3 linked regions of the Homo sapiens genome follow. The protein of the gene in region 3 purifies or fractionates together with the protein of the main gene of each other region. This does not show direct contact. Each region holds a gene or a part of one and is shown on either strand. Other genes may lie near its edges. The genes, in order: CNOT7, CNOT11 and RIBC1.

The links.
Region 1: the proteins of RIBC1 (region 3) and CNOT7 purify together in Homo sapiens (co-immunoprecipitation; 3 studies listed by BioGRID and IntAct, with this or other methods). This does not show direct contact.
Region 2: the proteins of RIBC1 (region 3) and CNOT11 purify together in Homo sapiens (co-immunoprecipitation; 3 studies listed by BioGRID and IntAct, with this or other methods). This does not show direct contact.

What each region holds. Positions count from the first base shown.
Region 1 is NC_000008.11:17,224,409-17,227,342, reverse strand, and holds the end of CNOT7 (CCR4-NOT transcription complex subunit 7), read left to right. Parts: 3' UTR 1-2,377; downstream 2,378-2,934. UniProt on the Homo sapiens protein: Has 3'-5' poly(A) exoribonuclease activity for synthetic poly(A) RNA substrate. Its function seems to be partially redundant with that of CNOT8.
Region 2 is NC_000002.12:101,262,886-101,266,385, reverse strand, and holds part of CNOT11 (CCR4-NOT transcription complex subunit 11), read right to left. Parts: intron 1,542-3,500; coding exon 1,339-1,541; intron 265-1,338; exon of another isoform or gene 1-264. UniProt on the Homo sapiens protein: Component of the CCR4-NOT complex which is one of the major cellular mRNA deadenylases and is linked to various cellular processes including bulk mRNA degradation, miRNA-mediated repression, translational repression during translational initiation and general transcription regulation.
Region 3 is NC_000023.11:53,425,704-53,428,812, reverse strand, and holds part of RIBC1 (RIB43A-like with coiled-coils protein 1), read right to left. Parts: intron 2,537-3,109; coding exon 2,420-2,536; intron 811-2,419; coding exon 729-810; intron 531-728; coding exon 186-530; coding exon of another isoform or gene 151-185; exon of another isoform or gene 1-150.

The sequences.
Region 1 (2,934 bases), on a different chromosome or scaffold from region 3:
TGCTGGATTTGAAGTGATCGAAGAATTTGTATGGAACTACAAGTGGGAATATTTTCAAAAAAGTTGATAAACAGTACAACCTGAAGTGGAATCTACTAAGATGTGATGCAACCGATGCTGGGAAAAATGCATGAAGCAGAAAAAAAGTTTATTTGGTCAAATTTTAAGGCTTGTGAAAACGTAAGTTGTTTAAAGCCTGTAGTTACTCACTTGATTATTCATCAGCAGGTACTTCACAGGAAATATTGGTGTTACTGAACTGGTCAACAGTTAACTTCATTTGCTCTTGTGGACTTAACCATCTTCAGTTCCATGATTTTTTTTTTTTTGTGAGAAACAGAAGCTGAATATCCTGATTTGATTTGCCACACAGGCGTTCAATGGCTTAGCAGTGCTAAAGATTTATTTTTATTTTTTTGGGCTCTGGGCTGACATTGAAATTTTTCTGAATGAGAAAAACCATCCTCAACCACTGTTTTTTAACACTGAGTAACTTTGGAAATTAACTTTTGCCACAGACTTGAAAATGTTTCTTAATGAATTTGACCTGAAATTACAAGGTACAACAACATAATATGGTAAATTCATTTCAATAAAAACTAAAACTTAAGATTGTCAAGCTGCTTTATATACTTTCTGTGCTATGAGAAGTCAAAACAGCGCTGTATTGCCAAATCCATTTTTAGTGGATATATTTTCCTGTAGCAGTTTTTTGGACCTTGATGCAGTGCAAAGAAAATTTTTAAATTTTAAAAGCATTTAACTGCAATTAAATGCTTTTAAAGTTTCCTCTTAATCTTCTGTTGGAAATGAATCATCTTGAATGAATGACATGCTAAAGGGCAAATACCAAAAAGATGAATCCTACAAATGCCTTACAAGTGATGAATATGCTTAACTAAAATCACATGCTCATGGGTGGATGTGTCAGTATTTAGCAGTACCTTGACCTGTTTGTGTGAAAAGACATTTTCAAAGATGAAATACGTGAAATCCCATTACACATCAGCATTAACAGATTAACATTTTCTATTTATTCCAATGAGGGGATACCAACTTTCAGCCCAAATTGAGCAAAATGTTACCTCCCGTCCCCTGCCAAAAAATCCCATTATTCCCATTAGTAGAACTCTATTACTAAAAAAAGAAAAAAAAATTGTACTCAATATTTTGAGTTTTCAATTTTTAGAATAAAAATTTGGTGAAAAGTTTCCTTGAGTACCTAAATAATGTCCTTCATTTTGTCTTAGCTTGCAAAGCCTCTAATATTTGCTACCTGCCCTTTTCAAAAAAAAAAAAAAAAAAAAAAAAAAGGCTTGTCCACCTCTCTACTAGAAGAAACTCAAGGGTCTATGTCTGTCCTGTTTGCTATTTCATCTGCATTGCCAAATGCAGTGGCTCCTCTGGGTAGGCAACCTGAGGTGGAATCAAATTATGAATGCATATGTTATCTCATGTCTATAAAATAAATGTGTTAGAATTTATAAATAAAGGGATAGGAAAAATGCTGATTATTCTGTGTGTCGGTGCTTTGTAGTGAAGGCCAGTTCACACATGCCATTTGCTATGTTGGTGTAATTTATATGAGAGTTTCTTTTATAACAACGTTACCTGTCATTTATTTTTCTATTAAGACATTATAGAAACGTAGGACTGTACACATCCAAATCCTGCAGAATTTTCATTTCAGGTTTTGAAAGTTAAAAAAATGTCACCATAGAATGAAAATTCCAAGAAAACAAGATTCATGTACATTATCACTAGACAATTTCCATTTGTTTTAAACAGTTTTCTACAGCATTAGTTACATTTAACGTTTAGTATAAAAGCAATTGAGCAATTTCTCTTTAGAAGTCCATTTCATTGCTTTGTAGCCATAGTCTGTAGGTGAATGAACAAGCTACATTTCTCCAGAATTACTCATTTTCTTTTTAAAGATAAACTGGTCAATACTCTCCTTCCTGGTATGGAGGAATTTTTTGTATATGAGAAGCATTCATGAATATAATCTGCCCTCTTGCTTTATTGTCATAGGAGGGGAAATTCACTGCTTTCACACCCTTCTGTTTTGGCTCTTTCTCCCAAAAGATAAGAATCTTTATTTAGTATCATACCAAGAAATTGGAGTTCCTTTAGCTTCAGACTATCATCATGGCTTCCAAATTGTTAGGAAATACAAGTTTGCAAGACCCCAAGGGGACTTAATATTTTACATCTTACTAGCCATGTCATAGGTTTTAAGTGCTTTTAATGGGGAACTGTTTCACTCATGCCATATACCTGTTTTGTTTTTCTAAAAAATTAATACTGTAAGTTGTGAGCAGGTGTCTTGTATCACTGCGAAACCCATGCATAATAAAAACTTGTTCTTGAGCTATATGTGTGTATACAGACTTTCCTTCCATTCATTGTAGCCATTCTGGGGCTGTCCTCTACTTCTTGCCTAAGTATATGTTTTTTAAATAACTTTAGCACATTTGCATGCTACTCCAAGATGAGTTTATAATTAAGGTTGCTTTTTAAAGTATTCAGCTTTCACACAATAAGTGTTTGATTAGTTCATTTAAGATGTTTTCAATTAGGGAGCCATACATACTGACAGAAAAAGACACAAAATCTAAACTGACAAAATAGCCTTGCTCTCATAACTGAGAAAAATACAACAGGAGAACTGACGCATTCTGTAGTATCTTTTTAAATTCAGAATCAACGGAATTTTACCTTGAAGCATTATGCGTTTTTTTTTCAATTGATTAAGCACCTTTATCAATCAAACAGAAGCAATATATTAAGCATTAATAATTTCAGGTAGGATTCAGCTCCTTGTACTGTTAAACCTTCCCCGGAAGATGCAACATAAATCATAGGTTTTCATAAACCATAAAGTAGTACTATTTTTCCTGAGCAAAAGGGAACTAGCCATAAACCAGGGCT
Region 2 (3,500 bases), on a different chromosome or scaffold from region 3:
AAATACTGTCTGGTTGTAACAATGTCAAGTCCTTTGCAGGTTTTTTTTTTCTGTCATCTGTTGTAACTAAAAATAATCTTAATGACCAACTAGTTCTCCCAAGAAACAGTCCTGCCCCACCCCACCCAGGTGGAGACCAGAAATACCTGAGAAGGGGGCGGAGTGGGAAGCCGGAGCGGGAATCCGGACAGCTGACCTGCTGCGAGTCATCAGTCTGCAGAACTTTACAGTTCAAGTCACACCCACACTTTGTAATTCAAACAGGTATCCTCAAAGGACTTTTTCTATGAAGTAAGCACTTCCTCTTTAAATGTCCTATGCTTTTTTTCCCCCGTCTACTTAATATGTTCCACAGTGGACTGTGTTTTCAGGATGGTCTTGCGAGCAAAGCGAACTACAAACGTTGCTATTATTTCGTTTTGAAAATGATATTTTTGGTGGCAAACGTGATAGGAGAGGTCATCTCCTAAAAAGTTCTAACTCAAAAGTGTGCAAACTGGATAAAATTCACCAACCAATAGAAGAGTGGCCTTGCCTTTCCTGAGGAGAGTCATCCAGTCTCACACTCGGGCAGTGGGGGCTACTTTAATCTCAAATACACCACGATCCAGCTGTGTGATGGGGGCGGGTTCCCCTTCCCAGCCTTGTTTTCCTCCCTACAGCCTGTCAGTAACTCCACTTTCCATCAGAAGCGTTACCATCAGCTCAAACGTAACCATTGTGTAGTGTCCCACTGTACACAGCAGTGACACCCCCACTACCCCACCTCTCCCAGGGACAAACATCACAAAGAAAAGTTAGAACATTTTTGCCATCAGACTTCTTGCCCCACCACAGCAAAATTACCAAAGAGTAGAACAAAGCTTCAGAGACCCAAAAACCTTTGCAACTTCCTACTGCTCACTCACAGTGACAGGATTAGTTTATTGCTTACCACTTTCCAAAAAAAAAATAAACTCTTGTTGGATTAAAGATAAGAAAATGCTCACAATGGCTGGGTACAGTGGCTCACACCTGTAATCCCAGCACTTTGGAAGGCCAAGGTTGGCAGATCACTTGAAGCCACCAGACCAGCCTGGCCAACAATGGCAAAACCCCATCTCATAAAAATACAAAAATTAGCCGGGCATGGTGGTGCATGCCTGTAGTCTCAGCTGCTGGGGGCGCTGAGGCACGAGTATCACTTGAACCCGGGAGGCAGAGGCTGCAGTGAGCCGAGATCGTGCCACTGCACTCCACCCTGGGCAGCCGAGTGAGACTCTGTCTCAAAAACAAATTTTTTTAATTAAAAATAAATTTAAAAAAAAAGATAAGAAAATGCTTACAATCAATACACACCTGTGTTTGTTGGGGAGAGGATAAGGGGCTTTTGAAGGCTTTGGCCATTATTCGTTTGATCTCCACACCAGTGCTATTCTTAACACACATCGATTTATCCCACTGGATCGCGTGGTCAGGCTCCGTGGGGTTTAGCCAAGCAAGTTCATCCTCACAAATGTGGAGTGGAGGCGGTGGACGAATAAACTCTGGTCGAAAATGGCCTGTAATGAGAGCCGTGATAGTTGCTCCTATCAGGAAGCTAACATCTCTACACATCTCACACATTTCACTTAATAAAGTATGCAAAGAAATCTCTTAATAAGGATGATGTGACTAGAACTCTCATACTTCAAAATCAGAAGCAGGAATGACACAGGAAGTCAGGGTTTCAGTCAGAATGCAAACAAGACAATGAAAGAACACTATGCCAGCATGATGCCAGAGAACAATCTATTCGCTTTGCAGAAGTGAGGAAAGCCTGGCCGTGATCTGCCCATGCTGCACTTGAGCATGGCCACTCAACAGCAAAAGGGCACGACTCCTAAACGGGTGAAGTCTTTTGATGAAAAAATGAAATACTATGCCCTCACACATCCTATTCTTAGTTACCACTATTTGTTCAGCTGCCACTATGATTTGTACTAGTTTTATCTTTGCATCTTATAACTGAAGTAACAAATTACGTGGCGATGAAGCAGCAGGAGGAAAAGTATGGTTGCCTTTTGATATTTCGAAACGAATGTGGAAACCGTCACGAATCCCTAAATTCACAAATACTATATTCATTTTCAGAAAACAATAGAAGTACAAAAGGAAAATGAAGTGGTTCAACTCAACTATTTTATAAAACAAGATTCATCCCTGAGTTACAAACCCACTGAAATAAATGCTGGCTAGGACTTCTGCTGAACCAATTTCACATCTCACATAGTTTCCACATAGGGCAGGAGTGGCTTATTCCTGTCATGGATCCTAGCCCTGCCAAATTTGAGAGTCTACTGTTGAGTTTACAGAAAATATTTTTTAGTTAAAAATCATCACTTTATCTTAAACATCTCCACTGCCTCTTCACTTACCTCACCAGGACTAGCATCTGAATCTCCCTTCAACCACTTACAAAAATAAAGTTTTTAACAATTTATGAGAAATACTACTTATGTGATAGAGAGTTCTTGCGAGGTGGGGACACCTGGTGTTTGGCTAGACCCACTTATTATGAGTGATCTGCTTTTCATATATCTTCCTGGTGACCTATGCAATTTAGAGTTCTGCCCGAGCAAATATTTAAAAGAAGCCATTACATGCCATGGACATTTCAGTCACACTTGTGACCAGCAGAAACTTCAAATATTAAACCTATGTATGTCAAAGATCTACTGTAAACCAAATGGTACAAAAGTCACTGTGTGAACTTCAAACTCATGGTGATACTACACTATCATCTGGTAAACATGTTCTCATCCCAAAGCAGAAAGCTTGCCTTCATAATTCAAAGCACACAGAAGCCTATAAAACAGATGCCAGGTAGAGTGGTGCATGCCTGTAATTCCAACTATGTGGGAGTCTGAGGTAGGAGGATCCCCTGAGCCTCAAGGGATTGAGTCCAGCCTGGGCATCATAGCAAGATTCCATCTCTTAAAGAAATCCCCAAAAAATGCAGCTATATTATTTCAAATTCTACAAGTGTTTTCTTTGAATTAAAGTAAATTAGGAGTTTATAAGAAAAACTTTAAAATGGAAAAGGAAATGATAGCAATAAGAAGATTTAACAGGTATAAAACAAAAAGATAATGAGCTGCTACAAAAAGACTCATTTCAGTAAAATGAGAATCTGTATTTTTTTTTTTTCCTTTTTGAGACAGAATCTCACTCTGTCACCCAGGCTGGAGTGCAGTGGTTCGATCTCGGCTCCTGCAACTTCTGCCTCAGCAATTCTCCTGACTCAGCCTCCCAAGTAGCTGGGACTACAGATGCATGCCACTACACTCGGCTAATTTTTTATTTTTAGTAGAGATGGGGTTTCACCATGTTGGCCAGGCTGCTCTAGAACTCCTGACCTCAAGTTATCCACCTGCCTCGGCCTCCCAAAATGCTGGGATTGCAGGTGTGAGCCACTGCGCCCAGCCTGTATCTTTAGGTATGCATAGGATAGACATGCAACAAACAACTTGGCATGCATT
Region 3 (3,109 bases):
GCTACACTGTCAGTTACTGAAGGAAGTCAGGGAGGTTGGGGTCTGCACAACCTAACATTTCAGCACCAACCCTATGGATAAGTGGACCTCCCCACACAGTTCTGGTCCCCTGGCTGCTGTACTCAGCTTAGGACAGATCCCCACTAGGCCTCAGGTCTCTGAGTCTGGAGGGCCGGGCTGCTTACCTGTATAATTCTCATCAACCTTGGCTTGCTGTTGCTCCTGCTGTTGCCTTTCCAAGTTGTACCTGAACTGCCCCTGCTGCATTCTCAGCCGTGTGTCCCTGTCTAGGTCTTCCCCAGAGAAGTACTGCAGGCTGGCTGGACCAGGATAGGTATTACTGTAACTAAGATAGGTTGGAAGCCCCTTCCAGACTTGGCCTGGATCCCAAAGACTAAATTCACGCCCGTTCTTGAGCTGCTGCTTCTGCTCCCGAAACTCCTGGACTTTCTTGGCCAGCTGACGTGTTCGATCTGCCTCTTCCTTCTCTAACATCTGGACTACCACATCATACTGCACCTGGCTGGTACCTGGGGGTGGTGAGCAAGGATATGGAGAAGATACCCCAGGAGGGACAGAGTCCACTTAGCATGTCCTCTACTCTCAAGGTCCATCCAATTTGTCCCACCACCCCAGGGCCTCAGGCCACAGAGGCAGAACTGCCCTACCTCAGCCCACTCGAGCTCTTTCTTTACACCCTTGTCTGGCCCCTGGCTTTTGGCTTTTACCATAAGCTGCCTCCTTGCTTCTTTCTGCTGCTTCCCGACGCTTTCGGTCTCCCACCTGGTTGTTCAGGGCCTGGACATCCACCTGATCCCAAAGAAAGGAGCACAATCAGAGTAGGGGCCCAGCAGGGGGCCTTCAATGTCCTACCACAAACTAATTAGAATTTACCTGTTTCAGAATCCTGTAGCTCCCCAGTACCTACTGGATAAAGTTCTAGCTCCTGAGCATGGTTTGTAAGCCTCTCCATGGTCTAGCCTCTGCCTCCTTCTCTGGCCTCATCTCTTAGTCCCACCTTACCCTTATGAGCTGTGCTTACAGTTCCCTGAATATCTTAGGCTGTTTTGAACCAATAGCCTTTGCTCAAGCTGCTCCCTCCACTTGGAACACTTTCCTCCCCTCTTTACACAAATTCCAATTTGTCCTTCGAGACCAGCTCAGCCTTCACTTTCCTGACCCCTCAGGCAGGTTCTACTCCTGTAGAATCTAGAACCCACTGTCTACATTATATTGATGTTCGCCTCTCTGTATTCTCTCCTCCACCAGACTGTGAACCCTTTCAGGGCAGAAACTGGGCCTTAGTCATTTTCGTATCCCCACTGCCCAACACAGTGCTTGGCACAGAGCAGGCCCCGAGGAAATGCTTGTCAGCTTGTCAGCTGGATCTCAATCAGAACACTAATACCCTAGCCAACTTCTTACGGCAGGCACTATGCACTGGTTTTCAAAGCTGCCACTCTGTGTTAACACTCACCTGACTTCCTTCAGCCTCATTTTACAGAAGAGGAGCCTGGGGCTCAGAGAAGACAGGTGATTTATCCAAAGCCACACACATAACAGTCAGCAGACCTGGCCTTAAATACTTACGGGGTCTTTTCCAGAATACCATGCTGCATCCCCCCTCTATCCACTCACCTAGCAATCTTTTGTTTCTTAAACTATCAATATTTTCTCTTTTATTATAATTCATTTATCACATTTCAAAATCATACAAAAAGGAATACAGTTTAGTGAGGCGTAAGTGTCCCTTCCATCTCTGTCTCTCAGCCTGGTTAAGTTTCTCAACATAGCCTTGCAGAGATAGTTTAGGTATATGCAGTAATTTTGAGACAGGGTCTCACTGTTGCTCAGGCTGGAGTGCAATGGTGTGATCTCGGCTCACTGTAACCTGCTCCTCCTGGATTCAAGTGATTCTTGTGCTTCAGCCTCCCAAGTAGCTGGGATTATAGGCATGCACAACCACGCCCAGCTAATTTTTGTATTTTCAGTAGAGACAGGGTTTCACCACGTTGGCCAGGCTGGTCTTTAACTCCTGACCTTGTGTGATCTGCTCACCTCAGCCTCCTAAAGTGCTGGGATTACAGGTGTAAGCCACTGCACCCGGACTCCAAATATTCTTTAGGCCTCTTTTAGCTCCATGTTGCCTGTCTCAAGAACCAGGTCACATGGCCCAGAGCTGACTGGAGAAGGGTCAGCCGTCTCCCCTAGTCTCTTCCCCTGCACTGACCTATCCCTCTTCCCAAGCTCTTCCCAGGCCTGTAGGGGTGGGTGCCTTCTCTCCCTCTCTTTCCTTTCCTGCCCTAGGGGCCTACTTGAATCAGGGGAAGGGCTATCATGGGCACTGTTACACATTCCTCTCCAGGTGTAAGAGTGAGGTGGCCCTGATCCTGAGCAACAGTCCCTACTACCCACTCACCCCCATGACTCGGTTCCGCACATTGAAGAATCGGTTTTGTCGCTCTTTTTCTCGATTTCTTCTAGCCTCGATGGCTGCTGCTTCCTTGGTATCTGTTGACTGTTTTATGTTATACATCTGGAGCAAAAGGGAGGTGGAATGGCCCATCAGTGCCGACCACCGTCTTTGACTACACGCCACCCCCATTCCTTTCTCCCTATAATATTTCAGCAGTTATTGATTCCTACTGATTTTACTTCCTGATATATTTCGTATCTGTGCCCTCCATCTCTGCTGTCACCAGCTTAATTCAGGCCTCACAATCTGGTGTCAGGCAGTATCTCAGGAGCCCCACTGGGTTCTCTTGCTCCAACGTTACCCTCTCTGCACTGGATTTCTCTGCACTGGCTACCAGAGTGATCTTTGGGAAGCAAATCTGACCATGGCACTCCTCAGCGTAAAGCCTTTGAAAGCACCTTTAAAGCAATGGCTCCCCAGTGCTTATAAGGCCCAACCCCCTTTGCCAGATTTATAAGGTTCTTCATGATCTGACCCCTGCTCACCTTTCTAAGCCTCAAACACATCTACAACACTCCTTTTTCATTATACTCTATTCAGTTTTCCTTATTTCAGTAAGTGGCACCACCATTCACCAAGTTGCTCCGGTCAAAAACCTAGGAGACATCCTTTAATCCTTCCTTTCCCTCACTC